Regions from separate parts of the Homo sapiens genome. Here regions 2, 3, 4, 5, 6 and 7 are each reported to be linked to region 1. The links are microRNA targets in miRTarBase. Many come from high-throughput screens and were not tested one by one. Region 1 holds a microRNA gene; each other region holds the end of a gene's coding sequence. Distances are between the middles of the regions.

What was found. The annotated mature microRNA hsa-miR-302f reads UAAUUGCUUCCAUGUUU and lies in region 1 at 1,974-1,990, opposite strand. An mRNA with a match to its seed (bases 2 to 7 or 8) in the 3' UTR can be bound and repressed. Matches are read on the target gene's strand: a 7mer-m8 pairs with bases 2 to 8, a 7mer-A1 pairs with bases 2 to 7 and ends in A, and an 8mer does both.
Region 2: miRTarBase lists ZNF585B as a target of hsa-miR-302f. Seed matches in the 3' UTR shown: 7mer-m8 at 1,816-1,822 and 7mer-m8 at 2,567-2,573.
Region 3: the mRNA of ACAP2 is a reported target of hsa-miR-302f. Seed matches in the 3' UTR shown: 7mer-m8 at 2,102-2,108.
Region 4: the mRNA of EMILIN2 is a reported target of hsa-miR-302f. Seed matches in the 3' UTR shown: 7mer-m8 at 3,339-3,345.
Region 5: miRTarBase lists PLLP as a target of hsa-miR-302f. The part of its 3' UTR that is shown has no 7-base or 8-base seed match.
Region 6: the mRNA of ARL8B is a reported target of hsa-miR-302f. The part of its 3' UTR that is shown has no 7-base or 8-base seed match.
Region 7: the mRNA of LAX1 is a reported target of hsa-miR-302f. The part of its 3' UTR that is shown has no 7-base or 8-base seed match.

What each region holds. Positions count from the first base shown.
Region 1 is chr18:30,296,311-30,300,925 of GRCh38, reverse strand. It overlaps MIR302F (microRNA 302f), which reads right to left and starts at 2,016; the gene lies at 1,966-2,016.
Region 2 is chr19:37,181,471-37,186,085 of GRCh38, reverse strand. It overlaps ZNF585B (zinc finger protein 585B), which reads left to right. Exons shown (of 5, transcript NM_152279.4): 5 at 1-4,507. The coding sequence ends at 859. Among named protein-coding and RNA genes, the nearest start is that of ZNF585A, 11 kb to the right of the region's middle.
Region 3 is chr3:195,275,485-195,280,099 of GRCh38, reverse strand. ACAP2 (ArfGAP with coiled-coil, ankyrin repeat and PH domains 2) reads left to right here. Exons shown (of 23, transcript NM_012287.6): 23 at 672-4,615. The coding sequence ends at 772. Among named protein-coding and RNA genes, the nearest start is that of XXYLT1, 6.6 kb to the right of the region's middle.
Region 4 is chr18:2,912,285-2,916,899 of GRCh38, forward strand. It overlaps EMILIN2 (elastin microfibril interfacer 2), which reads left to right. Exons shown (of 8, transcript NM_032048.3): 8 at 783-3,719. The coding sequence ends at 1,120. Among named protein-coding and RNA genes, the nearest start is that of LPIN2-AS2, 52 kb to the right of the region's middle.
Region 5 is chr16:57,253,120-57,257,680 of GRCh38, forward strand. It overlaps PLLP (plasmolipin), which reads right to left. Exons shown (of 4, transcript NM_015993.3): 4 at 2,978-3,910. The coding sequence ends at 3,794. ARL2BP (ARF like GTPase 2 binding protein) reads left to right here. Exons shown (of 6, transcript NM_012106.4): 6 at 1-516. Among named protein-coding and RNA genes, the nearest start is that of ARL2BP, 10 kb to the left of the region's middle.
Region 6 is chr3:5,177,970-5,182,584 of GRCh38, forward strand. ARL8B (ARF like GTPase 8B) reads left to right here. Exons shown (of 7, transcript NM_018184.3): 7 at 695-2,942. The coding sequence ends at 744. Among named protein-coding and RNA genes, the nearest start is that of EDEM1, 7.4 kb to the right of the region's middle. RefSeq lists an enhancer at 4,124-4,173.
Region 7 is chr1:203,773,779-203,778,393 of GRCh38, reverse strand. It overlaps LAX1 (lymphocyte transmembrane adaptor 1), which reads right to left. Exons shown (of 5, transcript NM_017773.4): 5 at 2,022-4,519. The coding sequence ends at 3,713. Among named protein-coding and RNA genes, the nearest start is that of LAX1, 11 kb to the right of the region's middle.

The DNA of each region.
Region 1 (4,615 bases):
AAAACATAAAAGTTATTTCTATTTGGTACTGTCTAAGGATGGAAGTAAGGTATCTTATGAGCACAAGAGGAGAGAAAATGAAATCTAAGGTTTGAGGAAAGTAGAAAAATAATGAAATATTTTCTTTCTGACAGAAGAATGTGCAGGAAAATGAAGATGGATTGCTGAGCAGAATTTAGGGCCCAGTAAGAATGGAGACCTGGATATTTAGTGGCACCAATTCATAAATATCCAGAAAGCCTGAGCCACACTGGAACATAAGATAGTAAAAGTGGCATTTGAGATTTAGCAAACTCTTCATCTCAATTCCCAACCCAGAGAATATACAACTTGCATTTCTGAATCCTTCAAGGTTGCATTGTTCTAGGCAAGAAACACCTACCATTTACGACCTCTTGTTCAGAACTGAAAGATGCCAGAGCTGCTGTTTTTGTTGCTGTTGTTACAGAGAACACAATGCAAAGGAATGATTTTGAAGGTTCGAGAGCATTGAAGGTTAAGGTTGTGGAAGGGGAAGCAAAGAGAAGTTAAGATGAAGATATTGCGGGAAAAGAGGGATTAATACACTGTCTTATATCTTGGGCAGAAATTTGAAACTTAAAGGTTTAATTGCTTCAAAATTTCTATTCCTCCTGGTGGATGAGTGTTTAGTGGCAGTCTATCAGTGCTTAGGGAGTCTTAGACAGGAACCCTTAACAGAAGGAAAACATTTATGTATTAATTTTCACTCTTTTCTCAATAAAATAACAAAAAGTAAAATTATGTATGCTCAAGAATCATCAGTATATAAATACAAGAAAATATTCCAAAATAACACCAGGGTATATCTCTGGTTAACGAAATTATAGGAATATTTAATTTTCTTCCAAATGCTTTTTCTAATTTTTAAATGTTTAAAATCACAATTATTAAACACCTTTTCTATTTTAAATATGCCTATAATTCTTCCATTGTAGTTATTATTTAAGGCAAATAATTATCTTGGCCTTGGCGTCAACAGTTAAAATGCAACTCCCCTTAGAACAATCATCATTATATGCTTTAAATATAACAAAAGTTGGTTTATTAAATTACATTTTCTTTGGTAGGAACAAAGTAAGGCAGTGATTTCGAAAATTTTTAAGGCTATTAAATAAAATATAGTGGGGCTACTAGGAATAAACAATGTATTTTCACATCAACAAAAATTACTTATCCTTTGACTGTACAGAAAAGTAATATAAAATAAAAAGAAACAAATACGACCTGCAGGCAACACTCTTAACTGATTTATACCACTTTGGCAATCCCTAATCTCCCTGCTTCAGATCAGCTTTTAGCATTAATACTGTGACACCTAATAGCTGAGCATCCTATCAACGCAAAAAGTGCAACTTTAACTAGGTGTTTCTGATACGTGGCAAAGTCACTGATTTAATTAGAATCATTCCTTTAAATTTCAAAAGTTCACTGTTACAGTATTTTCACAAATGCCTCTAAAATTAAGTGAATGTTTTTGAGTTAAATTTTATCTCATTGATGATTGGTGGCCATGTTACATCATACCATTCCATCTTTCAGTATAAATAAGATAAATCTAGAGAAAATAGAAATGACCTTTGCATCTGATTAAAGTATATTTTGTATCTGGTATTTTAAAATAGGATCATTTAAAGTTTTCTATGGCAAGTTGATTTGAGAAACATTCATTTCAAGAGCCAAAGGGAAGCCTACTAATGCATTTATCTAAAACTAACAATCATAATTAGCTTAAGTTATGCAATGCCCTCAATAAATAAGTGACGGTTTTAAGCCAAGTCATATTTTTGCTACTATTTTGCTAAATATTTGTGGAATAAAATGATTTGAATCATTTGCAAGTTATATAAGCCATTAGTGATTATGGCCCAAGGTATCAACGGAAAGTTATTTAAGTAATTTCCAAGGCCTGTTCCACAGTAGACCAGATGTTAATCATCTTTTATGTCTTTTATAAACATGGAAGCAATTAAGTGAAAATTGCCAGGTTTACACAGAAGACATTATCATTGACAATTATAGTATTAGAGAATAACTAGTGATTTAAGTTTTATTGAAGAATACAAACTTCATACCATATTACAATGGCCCTTTTGTAAACTATAAAACAAAGCAAATTAAGTAAATAAACACAGGAGATTTCCAGAAATATTCATGGGAAGGGAAAGAAAACATTTGCAGTACAGCAGTGAATAAAACACAGTCTCCCTTAGAAATAGTCAAAAAAATACATGTGAATGTGATTAATCTTAAAAATAGTGAGTTAAGGGAGAGTGTGATTTTTATGATGGTCCAGTCTTTTGATTCTGAGAGAGGTACCATACTAAAACTGAGGCTAATCTATTGCTTAAAAGAACCAAATGTGTCTCTGCCAGGTTTTGATATCAGGATAATGCTGGCCTCATAAAATGAGTTAGGGAGGATCCCCTCTTTTTCTATTGTTTGAAATAGATTCAGAAGGAATGGTACCAGCTCCTCTTTGTACCTCTGGTAGAATTTGGCTGTGAATCCTTCTGGTGCTGGGCTTTTTTGGTTGGTAGGCTATTAATTACTGCCTCAATTACAGAACTTGTTATTAGTCTATTCAGGGATTTGACTTCTTCCTGGTTTAGTCTTGGAAGGGTTTATGTGTTCAGGAATGTGTCCATTTCTTATAGATTTTCTAGTTTATTTGCATAGAAGTGTTTACAGTATTCTCTGATGGTAGTGTGTATTTCTGTGGGATCAGTGGTGATATGCCCTTTATCATTTTTTATTGTGTCTATTTGATTATTCTCTCTTTTCTTCTTCATTGGTCTGGCTAGTGGTCTATCTAGTTTGTTAATCTTTAAAAAAAAAACAGCTCCTGGATTCATTGATTTTTTTAAGGGTTTTTCATGTCTCCATCTCCTTCAGTTCAGCTCCAATCTTAGTTATTTGTTGTCTTCTGCTAGCTTTTGAATTTGTTTGCTCTTGCTTCTCTAGTTCTTTTAATTGCGATGTTAGAGTGTCGATTTTAGATCTTTCCCACTTTCTCCTGTGGGAATTTAGAAGCCAGTATTATCTTGATATGAAAACCTGGCAGACAAAAAAATGAAAAATTCATGCCAATGTCCCTGATGAACATTGATGCAAAAATCCTCAATAAAATACTGGCAAACCAAATCCACCAGCATATCAAAAAGCTTATCCACCATAATCAAGTAGGCTTTATCCGTGGGATTCAAGGCTGGTTCAACATATGCAAATCAATAAATGTAATCCATCACATAAACAGAACCAATGACAAAAACCAAATGGTTATCTCAATAGATGCAGAAAAGGCCTTCGATAAAATTCAACACCCCATCATGCTAAAACCTCTCAAAAAACTAGGCATTGATGGAACATATCCCAAAATAATAACAACTATTTATGACAAACCCACAGCCAATATCATACTGAATGGGCAAAATGGGCTTTCAAAACTGGCACAAGACAAGGATGCCCTCTCTCACCATTCGTATTCAAGATAGTATTGGAAGTTCTGGCCAGGACAATCAGTAAAGAGAAAGAAATAAAGGGTATTCAAATAGGAAAAGAGGAAGTCAAATTGTCTCTGTTTGCAGATGACATTATTGTGTATTTAGAATACTCCATTATCTCAGCCCAAAACCTCCATAAGCAACTTCAGCAAAGTCTCAGGATTCAAAATCAATGTGCAAAAATCACAAGCATTCTTATACACTAATTATAGACAAACAGAGAGCCAAACCATGAGGGGACTCATTCACAATTGCTACAAAGAGAATAAAATACCTAGGAATACAATTTACAAGGGACGTGAAGGAACTATTCAAGGACAACTGCAAACCACTGCTCAAGGAAATAAGAGAGGACACAAACAAAGGGATAAACATTCCATGCTCATGGATAGGGAAAATCAATATCATGAAAATGGCCATACTACACAAAGTAATTTATAGATTCAATGTTATCCCCATCAAGTTACCACTGACTTTCTTCACAGAATTAGAAAAAACTACTTTAAATTTCATATGGAACCAGAAAAGAGCCCGTAGAGCCAAGGTAATCCTAAGCAAAAAGAACAAAGCTGAAGTCATCACGCTACCTGACTTCAAACTCTACTACAAGGCTACAGTAACCGAAACAGCATGGTACTGGCACCAAAACAGATACATAGACCAATGGAACAGAACAGATGCCTCAGAAATAACGCCACACATCTGCAACCATGTGGTCTTTGACACACCTAACAAAAACAAGCAATAGGGAAAGGACTCCCTATTTACTAAAATGGTGTTGGGAAAACTGGCTAGTCATACGCAGAAAACTAAAACTGGATCCCTTCCTTACACCTTATATAAAAATTAACTCAAGATGGATTAAAGTCTTAAATGTAAGACCTAAAACAATTAAAACTCTGGAAGTAAACCTACGTAATACCATTCAGGACATAGGCATGGGCAACGACTTCATGACTAAAACACCAAAAGCATGACAACAAAAGCCAAAATTGACAAATGGGATCTTATTAAACTAAAGAGCCTCTGCACAGCAAAAAAACAAACAAACAAAACAACAACAACAAAAAACTATCAAATCAGAGTGAACAGGC
Region 2 (4,615 bases), not on the chromosome of region 1:
TCAGAAAACTCATACAGGAGAGAAATCTTATATATGTTCCAAATGTGGAAAGGCCTTCACCCAGAGGTCAGACTTGATTACACATCAGAGAATCCATACTGGGGAGAAGCCTTATGAATGCAATACTTGTGGAAAAGCCTTTACTCAGAAGTCAAATCTTAATATACATCAGAAAATTCACACTGGAGAGAGACAGTATGAATGCCACGAATGTGGGAAAGCCTTCAACCAGAAATCAATACTCATTGTTCATCAGAAAATTCATACAGGAGAGAAACCCTATGTATGCACTGAGTGTGGAAGAGCTTTCATCCGCAAGTCAAACTTTATTACTCATCAAAGAATTCATACTGGAGAGAAGCCTTATGAATGCAGTGACTGTGGGAAGTCCTTTACCTCCAAGTCTCAGCTCCTGGTGCATCAGCCAGTTCACACAGGAGAGAAACCCTATGTGTGTGCCGAGTGTGGGAAAGCCTTTAGTGGCAGGTCAAATCTCAGTAAGCACCAGAAAACTCATACCGGAGAAAAGCCCTACATTTGTTCTGAATGTGGGAAGACCTTTCGACAGAAGTCAGAGTTGATTACACATCACAGAATTCATACTGGAGAGAAACCTTATGAGTGCAGTGACTGTGGGAAGTCTTTCACTAAAAAATCACAGCTCCAAGTGCATCAGCGAATTCACACTGGAGAGAAGCCTTACGTGTGTGCTGAGTGTGGGAAGGCCTTTAGCAACAGGTCCAATTTGAATAAACATCAGACAACACACACTGGAGACAAACCCTACAAGTGTGGCATCTGTGGGAAAGGCTTCGTTCAGAAATCAGTGTTCAGTGTTCATCAGAGCAGCCACGCTTGAGAGAAACAGTGTGAGAAAACCCCCCTGAGGGTTGGGTCTGATTGTACACTGTTGCACGCATGCAGCAGAAAAATATGTATATTATTGTAAATAGAAATGACCACATCAGAATGTCACACATGGCTGTTCTGGAGAGGGCCTCTGAGAAGGCACTGAATGAGGCGAGGGACCCTTCCTACATTGTCACCATCCCCAGTAAACCTTGGGTCATTATTCATACTGACAAGGAACCGAGTCAATTTGGTGAATAGGAAAAGCCTTCTCATGAAAACTACAATAGAATACTGTTACCAAATTCTTCATAAGAAAGATCATATTATGGGAATGATAATCCTGTTTACTGTGGATTAGGTATAGTGCCAACAGTTTGAATGGTAAGACAACATAATATATATGATAGTGATGAATCCTTCTGTGAGTTGTTTGTTCCAGAACACACTGTCTAGTAGAATTGTGGGTATTTTCTTCTTTTGAATCGAACACAGTTGTGCATATCCAATTCCCCATTGAGTATTTCTATCAAGCAAGAGATACTGCAATAAGACAAACTCCCTGTGTATTCAGACACAGACCTCAGAGCGTATGTTGAGTCCCCATTGTCATAGAAAAAGACTTACAGTCCCCTTCATTATCTGCCAGGACTCTCTCTGAGCCCCACAGGTTCTCAGCACATTGTGTTTGACACCCAGCACAGTGTTTTTTCTTTTTCTTTCTTTCTTTCTCTTTCTTTCTTTCTTTCTTTCTTTCTTTCTTTCTTTCTTTCTTTCTTTCTTTCTTTCTTTCCTTCTTTCTTTCTTTTTCTTTCTTTCTCTTTCTTTCTTTCTTTCTTTCTTTCTTTCTTTCTTTCTTTCTTTCTTTCTTTCTTTCTTTTTTTGAGACAGAGTCTTGCTCTGTCGGGCAAGCTAGAGTGCAGTGGCGCTATCTTGGCTCACTGCAACCTCCGTCTCCCGGGCTCAAGCAATTCTCCTGCCTCAGCCTCCTGAGTAGCTGGGATTGCGTGTGCCACCACGCCCAGCTAATTTTTGTATGTTTAGTAGAAACGGGGGTTTCACCATGCTGGCCAGGCTGGTCTCGAACTCCTGACCTCATGATCCGCCCGCCTCGGCCTCCCAAAGTCCTGGGATTACGGACGTGAGCCACTGCGCCCGGCCCAGCACAGTGTTTTGTACACTCCCACCACCCTCAAGAAAGCCTTTGAGGTTAGGATTTTCAGGTCATCTGGGAGAACTTAAATTCTTCCTTCTGCTATTACAATTCTTCTCACTCAGTTGCCTGCCTCTTTTTTTTTTTTAATTTACTTGTGACTGAGTTGAAGCCCAGCATTTTACTTTCCTTAATGATCTGACTTTCATAAGTTGATAAGTCATGAAATCATTATCTTACATTATATGAGATATGAGATAAATCATAAATCATATGAAATTGATAACTCATATGAAAACCAACCCCACCATATGTTCACTGTCTACTTGTGTCCATCTTCGTCCCACGCACCCCACAAGGACCTTCCCCGCCATGTGCCTCAAACATCAGTTCCTGACTCAGGGCCTTTGTATTTGCAGTGCCCGTTGCAAAGAGCACAATTCTTTATTTTATCTGTGGCTTGTCCGTCATGTCTTTTTTTCCATGACACCTCCACACAGGCCTTCCCTGCCTGCCTGGTTTAAAATTCCAGCCCCTTACCCTTCCTCCTTTATTCTTCTCCCTAGCAATTTCCACCATGCTGCCTGGTGTATTTTCCTCATTTCTCTGTGGCTTCTACACTAGAAAATATTTCCCTTTTGTTCACCACTATGAGTCTAGACCCATGACTGCCATACAGCAGGCATTCCATAAATGCACCTGTGGAGAGTTGACCCATGCTTGTTGCGTGACTTCTGTCTGATTTTTTTCTGTGTTGCAGCATAAGAAGCGCTAATAGGGAGAACCAACTTGGCTAAAACACACCAGGCTTTTTCACCTCTAGTCTGTACCTGGGCTGTATCCCTTCTCAACCCTAAAGCTAAAAAGTCATTGTGAACCTTTTGGTCTGATGCTAAAGAAGGGAAAACAGGTACAGGAAATCCCATGTGGATGCTTGCTTCCAGGATTTCCTGCCATGATTCCAGAATCCCACAGCTCCAACATGATTGCAAAAGACTCCCTGCTCATTTTTCCTCAGCATGCACAGCGCTGTCCTGTCTCAGTTGCAACTCGACAGAGCCGCATTTACTCCAGAACCCAATCCACACACCTGCTCATCCTGCCCCGAGAGGAGTGCCTGAAGCCAATAGCAGGGAACTAGAGCAGACTTGGGTGGATCTTCATTGGATATTAGGTATCTTGCCCTAGATAGGCAGCAGTGGCCTTACAGATGCTGACAGATGATCTGATTAGATGCACAGTTGCTGGGTGGCGTCTGGGGCCAGTCTATTGGCAGTTCTGGGAGTGGGAACTATTTGGGCTCTGCAAAGATGGTTTCACCTTTAAGAAGGGCAGTATGGGGAGGTGAAGATGGGGCCCAAAGGATAGAACATAGTCAAAGAAGCAGGGCCACAATGCCCCTTTAATTCCCAAGCCCTAGTTGGGCAGTGCTTGGTGACACATCCCATTACCTCACCTTAGATCAATGTCTACTGAGCCATCATTAGCTCTGCTTCCTCACTTCTTCACAGTATCTGATGGCCCATCACATGCTGCTCAACATCTTAGACCAATGTCTGCTCACCCATTACCTCCCTTCACCTCATCCAGCACTGTATCTGAAGCTTCACTATTCTTCCTTCAGTTTTGGATATTTTGTGATACAACATTATCCCCAACTTAGGACAATGTCAGCTGACTCTCAGGAGGGTGCCTGGAGATCACCTCTTCCTTCCTAACATACCCTAGAACAAGGTCTGGTCCCCTTCATTATTCCCATTTTACCTTACTCCTAAGTGTATCACTCCTCATGAATTCCAGGAAATATGGAGGAAAACACATTTCACTGTACATGACTTTCAATAATTTCTCCTTTATATTTATTGTAACGTGATATTTTAGTGCTGACATATATATGTATATGTATGCCCATTTATATAAAAGACTAGTTTTTAGAGAAATTTTAGGTTCACAGCAAAATGGGGCAGAAGGTACAGAGATTTCCCATATATCCCCTACCCTCACATATACACAGCCTCCCCCATCATCAACATCCCCCTTCAGAGTGGTACATTTGTTACAATTGATGAAACTACATTGACACTATCGGCCAAAGTCCATGGTTTAATTAGGGTTCAGTCTTGATGTGCATTCTGTGGGTTGAGACAAATGAATAATGACATGTATGCATTATTACAGAAGGATAAAGAGCCGTTTCACTGTCCCAATAATCCTCTGTGTTTCGCCTACTCCTCTAAACTCCTGGCTATTTTCTTTTGTCTCCATAATTTTGCCTCTGAACCATAAAGTATGCAGCCTTTTCAGATTGATTTGTTTCACTTAGTAATGTGGATTTAAGTTTCTTCCATGTCTTTTCGTAGCTTGCTAGCTCTTTTTTTTTTTTTTTTCTCATTGAATAATATGCTATTGTCTGGAAGTACCATGACTTATTTATCCATTCACCTACTGAAGGACACCTTAATTGCTTCCAAGTTTTGTTGATTATGAATAAAGATGCTATAAACACCTGTGTGCAGGTTTTTGTGTGAACATGACTGTAATATTTTAAGGTCGTATTTATTGAGGTATAATTTACATACAGTAATATTCACCCTTTTTAGTGTGGAATTCTCA
Region 3 (4,615 bases), not on the chromosome of region 1:
CCAATTCTCCCCCCAACCCCCCCACCCAGCTTCCCAAAGTGTTGGGGTTATAGGCGTGAGGCACTGCACCCAGCTAGATTTTTATTTTATGAGTTTAGGAAGCAGTGGATTAGGTGCATTAGTTTTAATTACGCATTAAAGTTTGAGTAAAAAATTACTTTTTCAAATTGCTTTTAATTAAAAGATAGTATTATTTTTCCCTATCTGATTATCAGTTTGTCTTGATTATCAGTTTGTCTTGTTAATAACTTGCATCCATCCAAAACATTAGTATTTGGTTTTAGTCATTTCTTTTGGCCTTTATCAAGGGAAATATTTATTTAAAGAAGGTCTCATTTACTCCACCTCATTTAGAATGACTTTTCCCCCCCGTGTGTTAATAAACGTATTTCTTTACATTGCTTTAAAACACTTGCATCTTTGCTCTTTTCTAACTCTGAGCTTTCTTCTGTGGCTGCATCTGAGGTGCTTTTTTCAGGTATAGTTTTTTTTTTTCTTTCATTGCATAATTTTTCAGCATTTATTTTTAGTTGCCCCTTTTCTTCCAAAAATGCTCATCTGAACAAAATTTTAATGTAATGAATTATAAAATAGTACTAGTAATAAATATGAATGTTGTTTGATTAATACTTGTGTAAATGTTTAAAGTGTCTTTATTTTATTTCATGCAGGTGATGAAACTTATCAGGACATATTTCGTGATTTTTCCCAAATGGCATCCAATAATCCAGAGAAACTAAATCGTTTCCAGCAAGATTCACAGAAATTCTGAATTTTTTTAAAAATGGGAAAATATGAAATCTGGTGACCCCCTAATGTATACAGCTAAAAAATCACAATTTTTTTACTGCTTTAATTCTACTTAATTTTGGTAGATATTGAATGGCTTGGAAAAGAGGTACCCATTCATATATTTATAAATTAAAACATAGTTATCTAGTAGTAGGAGAGGAACCTAGTTTAGGACCTCTTTTATTAAAAAAGCCTATTTAAAGGGCTATTTCTGTAGACAGAAGTTCAGTCTAGATTTAGGCCATCTCTAGGTTACAAGATGATAGGAGGTTAGACAAAAGTGATTCTTTTGCCAATGGGTGGTGGCATTGATTTTTTTCCTCCATGCATCTTGCCCAGGATCACTCAGTCAAGCATGTCTTCATCAAGTGGAAGCCAACTGTCCTGCCTGCCTCAAGAATATGTGTTTTCTTTAGCTTCCCTGAGGCTTTTTGGTGGTTCAGAAATAGGTGTGTGTGTTGATGTGTTTTTGGTAACCTAGCTTTCATACACATAATATATGATTTATTAGAACTAGAGAATGTGTTTTCCCCGTTTGTTCATAAATGCGGTCGGTTATACTTCTTAGGTGACAGGTTATTGTCCAGTACTTTAATGTATGTATGTATAATGGCTGTACAGGTAGACCATAATTCAGTCCTTTAGATTTATTTTATGCAGCAAAAAGAAGCTCTTTTTTTTTTTTAATCACAAAAAAAAACCCCAGTTCAAAATGTGTAGTTCTTCATTGTTGGGTTGATTCCCCAAAACCTTGACAGATGTATCGATGGAATAAAAGTATGTTTTAAAGGTTACTTGAATGTCACAAAATTATGCCTTCATCAAAACTTTAAAGGAAAAATCAATTTATAAAATCATGTAGGCCATTTTTATATTTGAAATTTGTCCTTTTAAAGATAGTTTTGCTGTTGCTCCTAGTGAAAGAAAAATCTCTGTACAAAGGAGAAAAAGAACCCCACTTATTCTTAGTTAATACTAAAATATATAGCAATAAATTGCTGTTTATTTTTTCTACATCTATTTTGTGTACTTGTACACAGTGTACATTCTTTTAAATTATATCGTGTATATAGCTTTAGTATTCGGTTACATGATTCACAGACCCCTGAATTCCAAAATATTATGGATAAACATTACCATTTATATGCTACAAATTAGTCTGATTCCATCTTTGAAAATGTCTTAAAGTATAAAATAATTAATTTGCTTTTTTTTTTTTTTTTTCCCGAGATGGCGTCTTGCTGTGTCACCCAGGCTGGAGTGCAGTGGCACGATCTCAGCTCACTGCAGCCTCCTCCTCTTGGGTTCAAGCAATTCTCCTGCCTCAGCCTCCCGAGTAGCTGGGACTACAGGCACCCGCCACCATTCCGAGCTAATTTCTATATTTTTAGTAAAGACGGGTTTCACCATTTTGGCCAGGTTGGTCTCGAACTCCTGACCTCAGGTGATCAGCCTGCTTTAGCCTCCCAGAGTGCTGGGATTACAGGCGTGAGCCACCGCACCCAGCCTAATTTGCCTTTTGATTCCTTCCCATTGTTGTCAACAATTAAGTCTATTCTTCTTTTAGAAATTATATGTAAATGATATTATTGATACTCTTTCTAAATAAGAGGTTTTAAAATATATAAAAACTTTATGATCCAATTATAGATAAATTTTCTAACATTTCCCAGTCACTAGGGTTTTATAAGTTGATTAAACATCAAATCAGAATCTAGCCAAGCAGGAATTATATTGAAATAAGTTCACATTACAGAAAAGGTTCCATAATTTGGCCAAACTGCATGCATGTAATGCTTATTTAGTAATGGTCACTGTATGTTAGATAAGGATAAAAATATATTTGTGAATTACTTCTGAGGAAATGCTAACTTCCACAGCATTGTATTTAATTATAACAATAACAGGAACATTAAATCTTTATCTTTGCTGTTTCACCTCAAAGTCATAGATCATCTGGCTTTTTAGGCACCTTCACTAAAGGCAAAAATCTGATTTGTAGTTTTTATTAGCATGTACCTTGAAATTATTTGACCAAGAAGCTCAAAGAAAAGAAGTACGTTAAAGAAAAAGAAAAAACCTCACTTTTCCTTTATAGTGTCCCTTCCTGTTTTAATTCCTAAAGATCCTGACTTTTATCTGAGGAAGTCTAGGTAGTTTTCCTTTTGGATCTGGCCATTGGTGCGTGTTTCATTCAGATCACCTCTGGAATCTCTGTGGTTGTGAAGGCAATTCCTTATGAGACTCTTGCCTCCTGTGGCTTACGTGATGAATTGTTAATATGGCAGTAATTAATTAGTATCTACTTAAATTTAGTGGTCAGAAATGTATTTGAAGTGCCTTAAAGATGATCATGGTTCAGAATATCTTCAGAGAAAGCAAAATCTTTAATATTGCAGGGAGCCTAGCAATACAAGTACACATTTCTGTGGCTTGATTTCTTGAATATGCTGAGACCCAATTTGGACTACATTTGGCAGAAATGATGGAGTAAACAGCAAGGCTTTAAATTAAATTAATAGTTACAAGGTAGGTTGGCTCTTAGGTGAATTTAGCCATGTCAACTAATAGCTTTTATATGGTATGTAACAAATCTGAATTATGTTATGCTGTGAATTATTCAGTGCATTATAAGAAATCTTAGTTAATCATGCTTTTGGGCTTCATTAGTCAATGTGATTGGCCTTTTATTTTCTTTCCATAACTTATCTGCTATTATTAGTTTCTTATTCCTTATTATTAATCTGTTAGCTCATTATCATTAGCTTACTAACTTGAAAGTTAGATTAATATCAAAATAAGAATAGCAGCACTATGAAGAGTTAATAAAATGCAATTTCATGTTAGAGCTAGAATAAAAGTAATTGAGCAGTCATTTGCAAATGCTTCATTATAACATTTATGTGCTTAAGATTTCTAAGGTTTTAAAAAGTTACCTTTAATACAATCCTTAGAAACTCAGAAATTTCCTGATATTCATTAGATTATGGTGTTTGCCTAATTTATACCGGTTTTCACTGTATATTTTAATGAACTTTGATTGGTTACTTTTCCAGACATACAGATTTAATTTGGAATATGAACTTTGGTTCTTCATGAGTGCATTTTGAAAAAGAAAAAAAGTACACATTCAGAATCTGGCCAATTTAAGTTTGTATTTTAAAAATATTTTATGCATGTTAAGTATGGTCGCAGTAAATGAAATTGTGTTTAAGACTAAATTTACTACCGTTTTGAACAGACATTCCCAGATCATTCTTATATTGTCAGATAACACTTGTGTATAATATCACTTTGGATCATGGACATGAGCTGGAAAAATGATGTATTTTTGTAGATTGTATGTCCAGAATGACTTTAGAACCGCATGATACGGTGGAAGGAGCACTGGACTAGTCGTCACTACCCTTTTTGGATTCAGGGCTCCTCACAATTAAAATGAGTGTAATGAAACAAGGTGAAAATATAGAAGCATCCCTTTGTATACTGTTTTGCTACTTACAGTGTACTTGGCATTGCTTTATCTCACTGGATTCTCATGGTAGGATTTCTGAGATCTTAATCTAAGCTCCAAAGTTGTCTACTTTTTTGATCCTAGGGTGCTCCTTTTGTTTTACAGAGCAGGGTCACTTGATTTGCTAGCTGGTGGCAGAATTGGCACCATTACCCAGGTCTGACTGACCACCAGTCAGAGGCACTTTATTTGTATCATGAAATGATTTGAAATCATTGTAAAGCAGCGAAGTCTGATAATGAATGCCAGCTTTCCTTGTGCTTTGATAACAAAGACTCCAAATATTCTGGAGAACCTGGATAAAAGTTT
Region 4 (4,615 bases), 27 Mb from region 1:
CCCACCTTGGCCTCCCAAAGTGCTGGGATTACAGGCGTGAGCCACCACGCATGGCCAGGACCACCCTTTTTAGCTCCTGGGCCCTCCGCTTTATGTCCACTCTTGGCTTGTTGTCAGCGGCAAGGTCCGATGTCTGCTGCGGAGCCCGTGAGTGATGGCCATTCCTGCCGGCATTTGGTGTTGGCACTGACTCTCCTAGCTGTGGGGCCACCTACAGCTGCTTCTGCTTAGCGAATTGTGACATGTACAGATCTTTCCACCTTCCTCACCTTTGGCCACCACTTCCTTTCCCACCCTGGGCCCAGAACGTGTGGGTCATGGGCTGAGTATCAGTGCTCACTTCTGGCCATTGCCCAGCATGGGGAGAATGGGCCTCTTCCACGAGGAGCCTGGCATGGCCCCTGGGGTTACAAGGTGCCATGTCTGCCTCTCCCTGGGTTGGTGGCAAGCTTCGTTTTTATTGGCCCTGCCTCCCGGGTATTCTGCCCAGCAGCCAAGCTTTGAGGCTGACTTTAGCCTTTAGGTGCTTCCAATAAGGAATGCCTCCAAGAGGCATTCTTAGGCCCATGGCAAAAAGTGGTATGGGCTAAGGTGGCCTCTGCATCACGGGTAGGCTGTAGGGGATGAGCATAAAAAGCAGCTGAGGCAGGCAGCCAGCTACCATGGGAAGACAGAGATGGCTGGTCTCCCAGGCCCAGGTTAATCACTGGGGGGCCACTTACTACCATGGCAAGGGCTGTGACGACAGCAGGTGAGCACAGGGTTTGCCTTTCTCCCCGCAGGGGTCTTCACGGCTCCTTATGATGGGCGCTACCTGATCACGGCCACCCTCACCCCCGAGAGAGACGCCTACGTGGAAGCAGTGCTGTCGGTCTCCAACGCCAGCGTGGCCCAGCTGCATACCGCTGGGTACAGGAGAGAGTTCCTGGAATACCACCGCCCTCCAGGAGCTTTGCATACCTGCGGGGGCCCGGGGGCATTCCACCTCATCGTGCACCTGAAGGCGGGAGATGCAGTCAACGTCGTGGTGACTGGGGGCAAGCTGGCTCACACAGACTTTGATGAAATGTACTCCACATTTAGTGGGGTTTTCTTATATCCTTTCCTTTCCCACCTCTAAGGTGGCTGGGGAGATGTCAGGGGAAAGATAGATAGTTGTAAAAACTCTAAAGCTTTAATATATTCGGTTTGTATGTAATGGAAGCACGGGGCTAGAGTTTCCACATAGGCCCCAACATAAAGGCCTTCCCTCGCTGTTGAGGCCACCATGCCTTACTGCATCCAGCCAGGCTGCAGGGAGTGAGGCACACGGTGAACATGGCCACTGACTTTTCTGCCACTCTAACTGGACAACTGGAAGACTTGGAAAGGCCTCCACCTGTATCTACACTCTGAGGGCCCTGGACTGGGCCTGAGCTTGCCACAGAGGCTCCGTCTGACTGTGGGCTGGGAGGAGGGAGGCAGGGGAGAGCCGGTCACGGTGGCTGGTCTTTACTGCAGGGCAGCACTGTGGCCAGCTGTCTGTCTTTACACTGCATGCAGAAGTTTAAACACTGAAGTGCCGAAGTGGCCCGTGCCGCCGCACAGAGACCCCGACTTTAGTTTGGGCTGTTCCACGCTTGGCTCACCATTGCCGCCTGGGACTTAACCTGCTCAGGCGGGCCTTCGCCCAGCTGCAAATAGGGATGCGTTAGAGACTGTTCCCAAAGCTTGTTGGGCTCCTTAAATGGCATGTACAATTTAAGTGCAAAGACAGGGAGTGTCAATAAAGATGGAAAGCCATTTCCAGTTAACTTTTGTTAATTTAAGTGTGGTCCCTTACAGATCGGGAGTTGTTGCTAAAAAGCAAACTGAAGAAATGTTTTGTTTCAAAAAGGGCTACAGAAAGTAACCTTGAGTAAAATTAATCTCAGCTACAAAACTGTTACCCCTCCGCATCCAAGCTATACACTTGGGTTTTGTTTCTGGCTTGTGAAGACGGACCAGATGTGCACGGAGGTCAAGGCCCCATGTCATCTGCAGCTGGAGCGGCTCCTCTGGGGATGCTGCACTCAGATCCCACAGCAGCTGCCCAGGCTAACTTGATCCCTGCTGCTTCACTGCACCAATCTCCAGCAGACACAGCTCGCCGAGCTCTTGGGTTTCTAAGCAGCAGGAAGCTCAACCTAACGCTGGCCACACGCTGACAGCTGAGCCCATCTGAGAACACGGCATCTTCACACAGCGAGACGCCTCCACTGAGGGGAGGCCCGGGAGTATCAATCTGTCACCAGTGGCCACGGAGACCTCTCAGCACCCTTAGTTCAAGGTAGTCTCTGTGGATCAGGTTGGTAACACCTACTGGTTAATCAAGTCCCACTGGGGAAAGGTTTGGACGGTAGAATCAAGAGCTGCAGTTTCCTTGGCCCACAAGATGCTCTTATGCTGTAAAAAAAATGCTTTAAGAATTGTTTGCAAATGAATTTACAGGGTGGCCACTGGACACTTCAGAGTTCCTTATTTACTCCCCCCGCCACAGCTAGGAAGACCAGCAAGAACTAAAGGTTTGCCGTTTTACTATTTAAAATGTGGACCTCTTTGTCCAGGAGCGGGAGGGAGAATGGCATCTCACCCCATTACAACAGCTGGGGAACTGGCTAAAGAGAGCTGTCAGAGAGTATCCTTGGCTGTCCTAGGAATGACTCATGGAAAGCGCCCCAGTGCAGCAGTGTTTTCAGGAAAACCCAGTGGGCACGCGCCATCGCCCTCTCCTCTCCTCTCACGCTCCTTTTGAAAAGACCGCACTCGGCGCCCAAGGGGACGTGCTCAAGAGCTGCAGGGGCAGGGCCCAGGCAAAAGGTGGGTGATGACTACCTGCTGCTTTCCCTACTCCGTAGATGGGTCTGGAACATCGGGTAAAACCCAGTCCTCCTCTCAGTGCATCTCTACTCACCAACAATGGTGAATCTCAGCTCTGTGTATTCAAGACAGGCAAAACAGAATATGCCTCATTATGGCTGGAGCGTGCCTCTACTTTGAGATAAAGCTGGATGACAGGTGGATCCTGGCCCACTTAGGAGACATCTTTAGAAAGGGAAAGGCTGTCTTTTTGTACAGGTAGTAGAACAACAAGGTCAGCTGAGCTTAAGGCTGTGGGGTTCGAAGCAGCCCTTCAAGAAGTCATCACCCCTGAAGTAGTGCCTGCGAGTCAGTCAGAGGCATACCAAACCCTGAGACAGAATCAGGCACAAGTTCACAACTTTTTTTTTTTTTTGGGGGGAGACAGTCCTACTCTGTCGCCCAGGCTGGAGTGCAGTAGCGCGATCTCAGCTCACTGCAACCTCCGCCTCCCGGGTTCAAGCAATTCTCCTACCTCAGCCTCCCGAGTAGCGGGGACTACAGGTGCATGCCGCCACGCCCGGTTAATTTTTTGTATTTTAGTAGAGATGGGGTTTCACCGTGTTGCCCAGGCTGGTCGCGAACTCCTGAGCTCAGCCAATCCGCCCACCTCGGCCTCCCAAAGTGCTGGGATTACAGGTATGAGCCACCACGCCCAGCCAAGTTCACAACTTCTGATATCAAGTTGTTGCTGAGAAAAGGTCAGGACACTTCTTAAGTAGAGAAGGACTGTGACATCCCCTCCAAACCTCCATGTAACACTAACAAATGGCCTCATTTACACGATTAAAAACAAAATGGTATCGTCAATAAATGCAAACCTTAAACTGCATTTGAAATTACTTCCTGGTTGGCATGTTAATCTAGCTTTCCCAGGTGACTAATTTTCTCACAGTTTATGTATTTGCAGCTTGACAGGGAGTATTTGTGATTGGAGTCACTTCGTTCATGCCTGTAAGCTTGGAAACCCAGCTTTGCACATATCCAATCCACACCACAGCCCCTTTCTAAAGATAAATGTGTATTTTCCTTATGCCATCCTATAAACGGGAAAGAAAATGGAAGGACACATGCCAACTCCAATGGGTGCGGGGCAAAACAGAGAGAAGCCACACGCAGGCACGTCCTCAGAGCTCAGGTATGCAAAGTTCACTGCTCCCCTGAAGCCCTCAAAGCTGCTCTGGGTAAAGACCATTTCCTTTGTAACCAATTTCCCTGAGCTCTTCTTTTGCATTCCCAAAGACCCATGGTTGCCATCACGTCATGCAAACAAACATTTCCATCCTGAACACACGCTCCTGTGGAGGGCCTTTGGGATGCAGGGTTCAGCATATGCTGCATCTGGTAAGGGCCCAGCAATCTGAGAGGACAAAACATCACCATGTAAGTAATATATGCGATGTGGTTTTGATCAAAGGTCACTCTGACTCTGTGATGAAAACATCAGGATTGACTGCTAAATCATACCCACCCTAAGGAAGGGTTTAAGGAAAGGTGGGGTGTCCAGGGGCTCTGGACAGGACTCCCAGGGAATTCAAGTGCTTAGGGAGAGGAGGTAAACACAGCCTCCTGGACAGCCGTGAGACCACAGCAGAAGTCACATATGGATGGGTCATTTCCTGGCAGAAGGTACAAAGCAAGAGGTTAGTTCCTGGGGGTGTAGCTGCACTTCTGAAGCCAGGTTTTAAGAATAAGCAACAAAAAGGAGCTCCTGCTGTAGACAAATTTAAGTGTCAGC
Region 5 (4,561 bases), not on the chromosome of region 1:
GGCACCTATGAATGTATGCTGTGTGCTAGAAATAGACTAAAACATATTCCTATAGCATGTTAGTGTGTTTGCATGTTTGCTGAAAATCCTTTGTGTATAAACCAGTTTGTAAGGTTCTCTGGGTTAGGTAGGGACTCTGCAGTTTCTTCCTGTCAAAATCTCTCCTACCAAGATGGTGTTCCACTGTCCAGCCCAGCATGAGTAGCAGGTAGAGCACAGCTTTACTGGCTGTTTGTATGCTTTGGTTTAGTGCAATGTGTGGTAGATTACTTATCAGAAAACATATATGTCATCTCTAGAACGAAGAAAAAGCATAGTAGTTCAATTCCCAGTGTGTCCCTTTGATTTTTTTTTTTTAATAGTAAAAATAAGAATCTGTACTGACTTTTCACTTGGCCATTCTGGTTTTAAAGGACAAGCTACAAGCTCTGTGTTTCTGTACTGATGTGTCACTTATTAAATACTTTTGTACCATGAGTAAAACTTCAGGTGTTTCGCAAGAACCACCATTCTCAATGAGTTGTATTCTTTCTTTAATGTAGCCACTGCCATAAGGTTATTAATTATTGCTTTGGTCTTTTTTTTTTTTTTTTAAATGCCACCTCTCCTGGGCTTGCTTTCCCTTGCTTTGTCTATAAATGGGAGGTCCACCACAGCCCAGGCATGCTGGGAGCACTTGCTAAGACCTGTGGACCAGCCTGCCTACTTGAGAAAAGGCCAGTGGACAAGTCCAGAGATTAAATGATGAAAAAACGATGATAAAGGCAAATTGGTTTTTCACCCTTTTTTTTTTCTTTTTTTTTTGGGAATGGAGTTTTGCTTTTGTTGCCCAGGCTGGAGTGCAATGGCACGATCTCGGCACACTGCAACCTCCACCTCCCGAGTTCCAGTGATTCTGCTGCCTCAGCCTCCCAAGCAGCCGGGATTATAGGTGTCCACAAACACGCCCAGCTAATTTTTGTATTTTTAGTAGAGACAGGGTTTCACCATGTTGGTCAGGCTGGTCTTGAACTCCTGACTTCAGGTGATCACCCACCTCCCAAAGTGCTGGGATCACAGGTGTGAGCCACCATGCCTGGCTGGTTTTTTCACCCTTTCTGCTCAGCAAAAAGGAGGCAAGTCTGTTGTCACTTAATATTATAAGTAGACATTCTGATTTCTTTTAAAATAAACTAGCAGCCTGTCTCTCCATCCTCAGACACTTAGACTGTGATGTCAGGTGCCACCTTTGATGGGGCTCCCACCTGCCCTGGGGTGAGGAAGCCCCAGTCCTCTTGCTTAGGACTCCTCCCCAGTGGGAAGCAGTAGTCACACAAACTGCTGAGCCTTAGCATTGACTGAATGCCTTTAATGTCCCCCCTGAAACAGGCTTTTGATTCATGTTGGAAACATAAGAGGGGTGAGCTCTCTAACTTGCCTGGGATTTTGTTTTACATTTAAGTGTATTGCCCTTCCTTAAAACCAAACTCTTATAACTTACTCCTGGAAGGACTAATTTATTATTCAAACTCCGAGACTTTAGAGTAAAAAGTGATGCTATTAATATTTATACCAGGGCCAAGTGTGGTGGTTCATGCCGATAATCTCAGCGCTTTGGGAGGCTGAGATGGGAGGATCACTTGAAGCTGGGAGTTTAAGACCAGCCTAAGCAATATAGCGAGACCCAATGTCTACAAAAAATTTAAAAATCAGCCGGGCACAGTGGCTCACGCTGGTAATCCCAGCACTTTGGGAGGCCGAGACGGGCGGATCACGAGGTCAGGAGATCGAGACCATCCTGGCTAACACGGTGAAACCCCGTCTCTACTAAAAATACAAAACATTAGCCAGGCATGGTGGCACGCACCTGTAGTCCGTTACTCGGGAGGCTGAGGCAGGAGAATCGCTTGAATCTGGGAGGCAGAGGTTGCAGTGAGCCGAGATCACGCCACTGCAGTCCAGCCTGGGTGACAAAGTGAGACTCCATCTCAAAAAAAAAAAAAAACAAAAATTAGCTGGGCATGGTGGCCTGCACTTGTAGTCCAAGCTACTGAGGAAGCTGAGGTGGGAGGATTGCTTGAGCCTGGGCAGTCAAGGCTGCAGTGAGCTGTAGTTGTGGCACTGTACTCCAACCTGGGCAAGAGAGCAAGACCCTGTCTCTTAAAAAAAAAAAAAATCGGCCAGGTGTGGTGGCTCACACCTGTAATCCCAGCACTTTGGGAGGCTAAGGCAGGCGGATCATGAAGTCAGGAGATCAAGACCATCCTGGCTAACATGGTGAAACCCCATCTCTACTAAAAATACAAAAAATCAGCTGGGCGTGGTGGCGCTCACCTGTAGTCTCAGCTACTCAGGAGGCTGAGGCAGGAGAATTGCTTGAACCCAGAAGGCGGAGATTGCAGTGAGCCAAGATTGCGCCATTGCACTCCAGCCTGGGCACTAGAGCAAGACTCGGTCTCCAAAAAATAAAAATAAAAAATAACAAAAGGGTACAGAGGGTACCTAGAAATGCTTTTACCTTATTGTTCAGAGAACGTTGTTCTGTGGTGTTGGAAAAATAAGCTCAGGAGTACTCAGCTGCTTTCCTCTGCTGTCTCTACCAGCTCTGAGCAGGCAGCATGGCCAGCCACCTTGATTATATGACCTCCAAGCTTCACAGACTTTCAAGGTAGATGATATTGTTGAAATCTTTGATTCAGTAAGCTCACCTAACCTGCCCAAAGCAAGGGTGACTAAGTTATTGTCAAACTGAGTCACTTGTGAGAATAAAAGGCCGTGCTATTCTATTTATGCCAGCACAAACAGCATAAACCAGGACTGTTCCAGACCCAGCAAGCAGGAAGTATAGGCAGCCTTCCTCCGGTCAAAGAGTTCGCAGGTGGTGCTGAACGACTCCAGAACGTGAACTGCCCTACAGCAGGCATCTTCTACAGTCAAGCTGAGGTCTCCTGGAGGTTACAAGCACCTGTAAAAGTGATTTGCCAACATCTTGTCCAAATAATTTCTCTCATCTTTATTTTTATTAAAAAAAATAAAACAGTCACCACCAACCACATGACAACTCGCCAGGCAAGGCCTTGCTTCCCTCCCTCCTTTGCGTCCCATGTGCCTAGTCAGCAAGGTCGGGGAGGCACCGATGTTAGCTTCGCCCAAAGGGAGTATTACAGAGAGAGGCTTGGGAAAGGGAAGGAAACCTGGACAGGCTTTTCAGCACTGAGAAATCACTTAAAACTGATTTGCTTTCAGTAACTGGTATGTCTGAAATGCAGGGAGGGAAGACCATGCTGTCAGCAATCAACCCACTTTTTACAGGTTGGCTCCAGGGAGAGGTTGGTTGAAACGGTGTTTAAAGGAAGGAGAGTGGTTTCACCAGCTTGCTCAGCTCTCCTGGAACAAAGACTAAGGTGCTACGTGTTGCTTGTTAGGCTTATACTACGGCGGGTCTGGGGCTGCAGGTCTGGAGTCCTTGTTAGTGCATTTAGTGCTGGTGAGAAGGGTGGGCCCCAGTCTTGGACGCTGAAGTCCTCTAAAGACAAGGCAGAGACACAGCCTCAGATCCCCCGTCATCTTCCACTGAATAAGGGGGATGGAGAAGAGGTCTCAGCAGTTGGCCTCCTGCAAGCCGAGATGCCTGCCAGCCTGGGCCTGCTTCCTTAGCGCTGTGAGAGCTTATGTCTGACGGGCAGAGAGGAGCAAATGCAGTCCCTGTTGGGCTGACTCCACGCAGGGCTCCCCAGCTTCAGGCTTGCAGGGTGACCCTGCTCTGTGACCCAGCGGCGGCTTCAGCCCCAGAGGGGGCCGTGGCACAGGTGGTTTAGGCATAGCCGCCAGCCATCTGACTGGTGGCCGCATTGCTGCCTACTCCTCGCCAGGCCTGGTAGCTGAAGAAGGCACTCACTCCATAGGCGATCATCACCAAACACGCAAAGAACTGAAAGAGAGGTGAGAAGGGCTTAAGGACCGAGAGGGTGACAGTGACACAAGCTCCAACCAGATCTCAGGCCAGGCAGGAGGGGTTGTGGCAGCCGCACCATCTCACACTTAGCCAGATGCATTTCACAGCTGTTTATCATGGGGCTGATGAGCACCAGGGTCCTGGGATACCAACATTACCTTCTAACCATGGGAAACAGCTAAGAACCACAGGCAGGGCCTGTCAGATTGTGATAAGGGCAATGAAGGAGAAGATAAGAGTGACAGAGGGGACACCTAGCAAGGATTTAGTTCTAAAAAGACAACATTCAAAGGACACCCTAGGAATCTCCTAGAACCAGTTCAAGCCTCTATACTAACACCTGCAGCCACATTCAGAAGCTCCCCGTCTCTGTCCCCATCACTGAATTTGCTGATTTCAAAACTGCCCTCATCAGGAAGAGTAAGGAACCAAATGCGTGCCCATTGAGGCCCTGCCCTCCCCTGGGCTTGGCCGTGGCTCCAGGCCTGGCGTCCAACTTCTCTGAGCAGGAGCCTCCTGTCTGTCAAAAGGAACTGGTAGTCCCTTCCTCTCCCTCACTGTGGGTGTCGCAGGATCCTGGGAGGAGATGGTGTGCAGGGCCTGGTGGTGTGAAGGGTGACAGGCGTG
Region 6 (4,615 bases), not on the chromosome of region 1:
TGTTAGCTGGGAAACTGGTAGTGAATTTACCCTCATCTTTCAGGCTTGGAGAATAGAGTGGTGCTTCTGATAGACTCTCATGTACCCTTCTGAAGAAGTGAGGACAAGAATTACCCAGCCCCAGATGTCAAAAGGGCATGGTGTGAACCCTGCACCAGCCTTGGCAGTGACAGCCTCCTCTCCCATCCCTGTGCTTTAGTCACATTGTATCACTCACAATCCATCCAGAGCTCCACAATGTTTCATGCCTTTTAACATTCTTTTGCTGTTTTTTTTTTTTAACCTGGAGTTCTGTGGGGTGGCCCCCAAGCCCCGGGAATTACTGCATCTTTTCTGTGTATTATACTTAAAAGCGCCTTGAGGGCAAACAGGGGTTATTCCTTTTTTTTTTTTTTTTTTTTTGCCTTCCTGGCAATTTGCATGCAACACCTGATTGATTGTGTGGGCAACACATAAAAGGTGGCACCAGCCGTCCTATACACAACTTAATTTTTAAATCAGAAAACGCTTCAGTCTCTGATAATTCCTCATATTCTCTTGAAGTTCGGGTAATGGAGTATGGTAATGCAGATGCAGAAAAGCAGCAGAGGTCAGGCATAGTGTGTGCCTTGAATTAGCTGCCTTTTAAATATTGTCTCTGTTTGATGTTTAGTTTTTTAACTTTAATGTCTTCACTTTTCCCCTCTATCTTTAGATATCACACTTCAGTGGCTTATTCAGCATTCAAAATCTAGAAGAAGCTGAAGCATCTCCTGAAGTCTTCCAGTCCTTCTTGGCTATAATCCTAGAATTATTGTCCGTTCCTCTGAAGTAATTCCCAGAATACGGTCCTTCCTAAACCCCAGAAATTGCCTTTTTCAGAGTTTATTTCTCATGTGCACTGCTGAAGATGAATATCCCTAATCCTTCATAAAGAATCAGCTAGAGTTGTCATGATAAAGTCAGCACACACAAAAAGGCTTCTTACACATACCTGTCTTAAACCATGTGTAGAGCTTTAAAAACAGAAAAAAAACCCCATATACTTATGACCATCTTAAATCAAGAAAATTGCATATTTCCATTCTGGTCTTTCTGGGCCAGATTTTTATATTGGTTTTCAGTAAATGTCTATCTATAATATTTCATTATAGAGTCCAGTAGCTTAATACTGACACTGACTTGATACAGCATGAAGTTTCTAGTGCCACACACAGTATTTAGAAAACCTTTAGGCGTGAATGACTCATGTGGGATATATGTAAACATAATGTTTATTTTATCTCACAAATGCATGTGAAATGTATAATTACATCTTAGGAATCCAAAATGGTCTGCAGAGAGTGAGCGGAGGCACCAGATCAATGTTGGTTCTTTGCACTGGTGAGATTCTGCCTGATGAATATTAAAGATATCCTGCTTTCTGAGAACTCTATCACCAGATGGCAGTTGGGATATGGGAGGAACTAAAGCATCCTGTTTTGTATCTGTCCAGATCATTATTTCTGTCTCTTGTTTTTTCTTCCTGGTTCAGGATACTTTTTTAAGGGGTTGAGAATTGAAGATTTTCCAAAAGCGTTCATGAATTTAGAGCATTCCACCCAATATAATAAAACCTGTTAAGAATGTCAGTCTTTGTTCAAACATCTGTTTGTTCTATCTCCAGTCATTAAATCAGTGCTGCTGCATGACACTCTTAACTCCTGACTTTTTATATCCAGTCATAAAGTTGACTTTCAGCACAAAAGATACTTATAAACAAATAAAAAATTTTTATTTTTCTCTCTTACTGATGTAAGCTTTGGCACTCTTTTGACTGGTGCCATTAGACATCTTGATTATTGTGACAACTCTAGACCTGCCTGCTTTATCTAATGTAATCATGCTCAATGTCTACAGGTTGTTTAATAATCAGTCACACAGAGAACTGAGGAACTGATGCTGTTTGTTTGCTTCTATGATACAGAGATGTCTAAAAACTTCAAATGGACATGTTTTGTAGTTTAGCGACTTCCGTATACATAAAGGGACATATTAATACTGGTTCATTTGTAAATTATTATTCATATAGACCACTGTAGTAGATAAAACTCTATGGTACACCTGCTTATGTGTTGCCTCACACTGTGTGTGATTTTGTTTCTTTTGTTAAGCAGCACTTATGTAGACTGCATTTCCAAATGTGTTGAGCACTCAGAGTGTAGTCAACAGTAAGTTCTTTTAATGAATATCAGTTTTAATTTATAGACTGCCATGGCCTTAAAAATATTCTGTACAATATACTGCACTGTGTTGCACAGACACTACTTGCTTTTCTCCATTCATATTTTTATGAGTAGAATCTGGGCTTTTAAATTTCTCTTCTTATTCTTTGAAGCATGTTGCATACTACCCTGGTGGGATGGATGGTTCTGTAAATGAAGGGATATTTAAACTTGCTACTGTTGTTCAACACCATTAATGGTCAGTGTGAACCATTACAAAGAATGTGGCAACTTGCTTGTGCCTAAAAGGAGGAATTGGAACTAGAATGTGTGACTCTGTGGGGACTGCATAGGTTTGTTAATTGACCTATAGCTAAACCTTAATGTGTTTGTGTGTCTATACATTGCTTTCCGCATTTCAAGACATCCAGACGCTATTACCAACATTTTCCTGTGCATTAACCTCTGCATGTGAAAACTTTTAACAGTTACTGAACTATGTAAATATGTGAATTTTTTTATTTAGGTGGATGCATTTTTTGTCTGTTTACTGCTCTTCTCAGCTTTATTCAATAAACTTGCATTTTAAGGGTTGTATTGGCAATTTTAACTTAAAATGTGCATCATGATGGAAGGTGCAGACTTTTTTGGAAGTTTCCGAGAGGAGGGTCTATAGACCATTTGTCAGAAATCAGATCAGCCCTCAAAGAATGGGGTCTGTGGGCTAGTTAAAATAGAAATAAACTTTTAAAATATCCACAGAATTGATATTGTGATTTTTTGGGGGCGGGGGAAATGCTACTACTTGTCAACGGTCACAATACACCAAATTTAGGACTTTAAGTGGCAAGTGCTAGTAAAACATTTTATGTCCCAGTTTTTACAAATCAAACCAAGACCCTGCTAAGCAAATGAAGTTGCAAGACATGCCTATTCACTGACTTCAGTTCAGAATGGAAATATTTTAAGTACCGAACATGCTGGTTTTCCCACAAAGGCACATTTTTAGCATAAAGCTTTTTGCTAGTTTGGTATCATCTGCCCATAAAATAAGTCAATACTTGAGCTATTGGAAAAATAATTGTGTATATTTTTATTTGTTTAGAAAGGTTCAGTTAGCATTTTCTCCATACGCATACTACAATTCTGTACAGCCAACCCTTAGTGGCCAGTTGGATGCATGATTTCGCGTTTATTTCCCTGGAACGTCACGTTGATGTGTTTTTGTCTTTTCACTGCATTACTGGAGCCATGTAGTCAAGCATCAAGTTTCATCCACTTCTCACCATTCTCCTACCAAGGGGGTGAGTGTGTGAGAGTTGAGGGTGAGGATGGGGGAACACGGAGGATATACATTTAGCTTAATTCTAAATGTGTATCTGCTTTTAAAAACTTCTAAACTTATAAAGTTGGTCTTTGATTCTGTCAAGTAAATTGGGTGTTTGAGGAACTAACTGCTTTGTCTGTTTGCTCCATGTAGGATTGAGTTACACTGATACCCTGTTGATTTGGTAATTCCAGCTGCTCCAAGGGTCTGGTGGGTTCAGAACTGGAATGGAAGCTTAAACATAATGTAGTGGGCATCATGCTGTAACATCCAGTTGGCCAAATGCTTTACTCTAAAAATGTGCCACAGTGGGGAAAGCACGATGTTTGATGTTTAAAATGTTTTTGTTATGTTACAGACTTTTAAGGTTATGCCCTCAACTGTGCATAGCAGTGAAGAGACTTGAAAAGGAAGACAGTAAAGCCTTACAGACTTCCCTTAAGTTTGCTGCTCTATAAGTATGCAGCCTGCTGCAGGTGTTTCCTGTTGGTTAGTAAATAACCTCCACACATTGGCTGTTTAAAATTCAGCTATTAATAAAAATGTGTACTTTTGTCATTGCTCCTCTTGGGTGTTCTTAGGGAAACCAAAGCAGGTCATTGTCATGGTAGACAGACTGCAATAGGACTCTCTTAAAAATCTAAGCCACAGCAGTAGTCATTTATTATTCCATTCTATTAACCAGCCCTCTCTTCAGTAAGATAATTCTATTTTGAAATCCCAAGGCATCTGGCATTTAGGTAATGCAGATTTCCCAATAATCAGGAGGGGGAAAAGATACTTTAGCTTCATTTTACTGGGGCTTACAGTAGGGATGTAGGAAAAGAGTTGTTAGCTTACGATGCTAATATAGCTTAATTCTGTGGAGAGTACTGGGTTGGCATTTGGGAGAATGGGTTCTTTCCTTGGCCATTAACTGACTGTGTGACTGGTGAGTTGCAGAACCCCCTCATGGCTCCTTAAGTTTTCCCATCTATAAAATGAACAGGAGAGGATTTCTAACCATAACTTCTGCCACTGACAGGCTGATTCTAGCAGCCTAGAAATTTGCTTGGTGGTTAAAAAGAGATACAAAAACACCGATTTGGCCTAGTGAATATGTTAA
Region 7 (4,615 bases), not on the chromosome of region 1:
TCAGTATAGGCCCTCAGCCCACAGGAAACCCAGAATTGACGATAAAGCCTGTCATAGTAAGGGGGTGCTGAAGGAGAACAGATGCCAGAGGGACAGCAAGACCTCATCTTCCATTCACCATTAGAGGGTGGGTGCTTCTAGAGGGAAGGAGGGAACTTAGCAAACCTCTGTATTTTGTACTAAACAGTATCCTGAATGAAGACACAATCAATATAATGTAGGTTTGGGTAATTAATTCATTTTATTTAACTAATTAAGGAATCAAAATGGGTTAGTTATCTTTGTTTGTTTGAGGCAGAGTCTTGCTATCACCCAGGCTGGAATGCAGAGGCAAGAATATGGCTCACTGCAGCCTCAACCTCTTGGGCTCAAGTGATCCTCCCACCTCAGCCTCCCGAGTAGCTGGAACTACAGGCAGGCACCACCATGTCTAGCTAATTTTTGTATTTTTTGTAGAGATGGGTTTTACCATGTTGCCCAGGCTGGTCTTGAACCCCTGGGCTGAAGTCATCTGCCTGCCGTGGCCTCCCACAGAGCTGGGATTATAGGCGTGAGCCACTGTACCTGGCCTTGGTTATCTTTATATCTACTTTTTCATCCTATCCTAATCTTGAAAAAATTTCCTCATATTTAGCATCATCGAGTGTATGAGATAAGACAATTAGTCAACATTTCCTGGCAACTAATGTGAGAAAACAAAACCATAAATGGAAAGAAAAAAATTAACATTCAATAAAAAATTTTTCATTGATTCATTTGCAAAAATTTCTTAAAACAAGAAATAAACAGAAAAGTTACGTATCTAAATATGAGACAATCTACAGTGCATTAATCATTCTTGATTTGGGAGAGTATGTAAGTGTGACTGGCTGATTGAGGTATCCAGCTTGTTGGTGTGTAAACAAGCAAGAGCTGCCTTAAGGCCCAGTGTGGTGGCTCACGCCTGTAATTCCAGCACTTTGGGAGGCCACAGCAGGTGGATCACCTGAGGTCAGAAGTTCGAGACCAGCCTAACCAACATGGTGAAACCCCATCTCTACTAAAAATACAAAATTACCATGGTAGCAGGCGCCTGTAATCTCAGCTACTTGGGAGGCGAAGGCAGGAGAATTGCTTGAACTTGGGAGGTGGAGGTTGCAGTGAGCCAAGATCATGCCATTGCACTCCAGCCTGGGTGACAAGACCAAAGCTCCATCTCAAAAAATAAAAAAGAGCTGGCTTAGTTTATTCCAGGACCTGCCCCCAACTGATACGTTGTCCCTCCCACCCTTACTGGGTGACAGATGTCTTCATAACTTCTAATTTAGATCTCATAACTTTTCATCCCCTCTTAGTTATGAGAATTCTGTCATGCCAATGTTTAAGATTTTGTTCAGTCCATTTAAGCTTCATTCTCACATATGATACAAACTTCTCCTTACTTGACTATGGGATTGTCCTTTCGATGCGCTTGCTGCTGCCCTGGCTAACCCTGCATGGTCATCAGTACCAGACTGTCATGGTTCCCTCTGTGTGGCATGAATTTAAATGCTGGCCACTTGGTGGAGTGATGGTCTGTTTTCACTCACGACACTTCTGACACCAGATGTGTGGATTTTCTCCCCCCAACAGCTGACCAATTTTCCAGCTTTCTGGACACCAGTTGGGTGCCCTGCAATTCAATTCTTACACTAACCTGTCTCTCCTTATCTACAATAGATTGACTTATTTAACCCAAATATACATATAAAGTCGTTTTAGAATTGCTAAGCCATGCCTCTGTGAGATACAAATTTACCAACCAGAGTGCAGTTTTTGTATACAGTTCTTTGTGTCCTTATCTACAGTTATAAGTCAAAACATTGTTTTCCAACTTTGTCAGTTCTTTTTTCCCCATCCCTTTCAGTGAGTTGATATCATACATTTATAATACAATTAGATTCATTTGCCACAATTTGCATACCATCCTGGGTTCCCTTGACAGTCTGTTCATTTTTAAAAAATTTGCATACAATAAAAGCCCCTTTGTCTAGTGTACAGTTTTTTTTTTTTTTTTTTTTTTTTGAGACAGAGTCTTTCTCTGTTGCCCAGGCTGGAATGCAGTCCGCCTTCCTGGTTCAAGTGATTCTCCTGCCTCAGCCTCCTAGTAGCTGGGACTACAGGCGCACACCACCATGCCAAGCTAATTTTTGTAGTTTTACAAATATGAGAGACAGGGTTTACAAATTACAAATTAGAGACAGGTTTACAAATGTTAGAGACAGTAGAGACAGGGTTTCACCATGTTGTCCAGGACAGTCTTGATCTCCTGACCTTGTGTTCCCCTGCCTCGGCCCCGCAAAGTGCTGGGATTACGGGTGTGAGCCACCGCGCCTGGCCATGTGTATAGTTCTTGTGTTTGCAAATGGATATTGTCATGTATCCACCACACAGTACCATACAGAACAGCTCCATCAGCCTATTCCCTTTGCAGCCCCTTTGTAGCAAACTTCCCTCCTTTTCTCAAACCTGACAACAACTGATCTGTTCTTCATCCCTATAGTTTTGCCTTTTCCAGAATGTCATATAAATAGAATCGCCCAACATGTAGACTTTTAGGCCTAGCTTCTTTCACTTAGCAAAATGGATTTAAGATATGTCTATATTATTGTGTGAACCAAGAGTTCATTTTTTACTGTTGAGTATGGATAAACTCAAGGAATGGATATCAACAGCTTATCCAATCACCTGTTGAAGGATATCTGGGTTATTTCTAGTTTTTGGTAATTATGAATGAAGCTGCTATAAACAGTCATGTGCGAGTTTTTGTGTGAACATAAGTTTTCAGTTCACTTGCGTCAATTTCTAGTAGTGAAATGGCTGGGCCATATGATAAGTTATGCTTATAAGAAACTGCTGAAAAGTTTTTCAAAGCTGCCCTGACGCTTTGCAATCCCATCAGCCACCAGTGAGAGTTCCTGTTCTTCTTCATCCTTACCTACATTTGGTTGCCCACACTTCTTTTTTGTTTGTTTTTTTTTTTGAGAGGGAGTCTCGCTCTGTCACCAGGCTGGAGTACAGTGGCACAATCTCGGCTTGCTGCAACCTCCACCTCCCGGGTTCAAGCGATTCTCCTGCTTCAGCCTCCTGAGTAGCTGGGATTACAGGGGCACACCACCACGCCTGGCTAATTTTTGTATTTTTAGTAAAGATGGGTCATGTTGGCCAGGCTGGTCTAGAACTCCTGGCACCAAGTGATCTGCCCTCCTCGGCCTACCAAAATGCTGGGATTACAGGCATGAGCCACTGCACCTGGCCTGCCTACACTCTTTAAAATGGAAATTGCCCACCCCACTCCACTCCAACTTCTTCCTTCCTTTTGACCTCTGACTGGATTATACAATAATCTATACTCTTGCTTTGCAGCCTGTTGGTATTAATGAAGGTAATAATCTTAGACTACTGTGCACTACTTTCCTGCTTTCTTCACAGTTCTAGGAAGCAGTTTCAGCAAACATTCTTAGGCTGGTACAGGAGATAACCACACTCTGCTTGAGAAGAATTCCCTTCTGGAATTCCCAAACCTCTGCTTTTGTGTGGCCTCTTAGTTCACTGCTCATCTCAGCCTCTTTTTAATCTAACCAGTGAATCCACTGAAGCACTAAGGTGATCACGGGTCTGCACTAGACTCTGCAGTAGTCAATCCTATGGGATAGACTACTCAATGTGGCTTTATGGCTGGGTACCTGGGTCTTCATTCATCAGGAAGGAGCTGAGTGCCAGGCCCCTGCTCAGAGTCCCTGCCTCCTAACTTGGCAGTTAGCACATTTTCATAGTCACTGGAGTCCTCATTTGACATCTCTTCTCTATGTTTCATCTGACTGTCCTCACTCTGTGTGAATGGCTGAAAGTCTGCATAATCCCCTGAAGCAAGGAATGTCCTTTTGACACATTGGACATGGGTCCCGGGATCATCTGTCTTGTCCTCGACATGACCTATGTTTGAGGATGGCACATCTTTCTCAGCCTGCTGCTGGCTTCCACTGGGATCTGCTGCTGGAACATTTTCATAGTCTCTGCAGCACTGAAAAGCCACCCAGAGCTGCCTTTCCTGGATGGCACTGAGATCCAACCCTGTCATGTTGACATAGTCATTTGAGATCTGAGAAGAACCTTCTCCATTGCTGAGTGAATCACTGTCCTCAGCTCCTGGAGAATACAAACTGGTGCAGTCACCAGCATCTCCACAGCCCTCATCTCTTTCCTCAGTAAACTCCAGCTTCTGGGTACTGGGAAGAACAAAGAGATTTCTGGAAGGGCTTTTGGTAGAAGCTAGAGTCTCAGCAATCTCTTCTGCTGTGGGGACATTGACATAATCATGCGAATCCTCTGAAGAAATGCTTGCGCAGTCTCTGGAAGCTCTGACATTGATGCAGTGTGCCGAGGGAGTGAGGTTCCCACACATCTGGGGGACCATGGCGTTGTCATAGATACCCACCGCGTACTCTGTGGCATGGATGTGGGCTGTATGCTCCTGGAAGGCATTGCCTGCTTGGGAGGGCTATGAAGAAGAAAAGGAAGCCAGTGGTCAGATGCAAGCAGAAATATGGACAAAGCCTTTCTTCTTGGAAAATACCACTGGCATATTCTGAAAAAA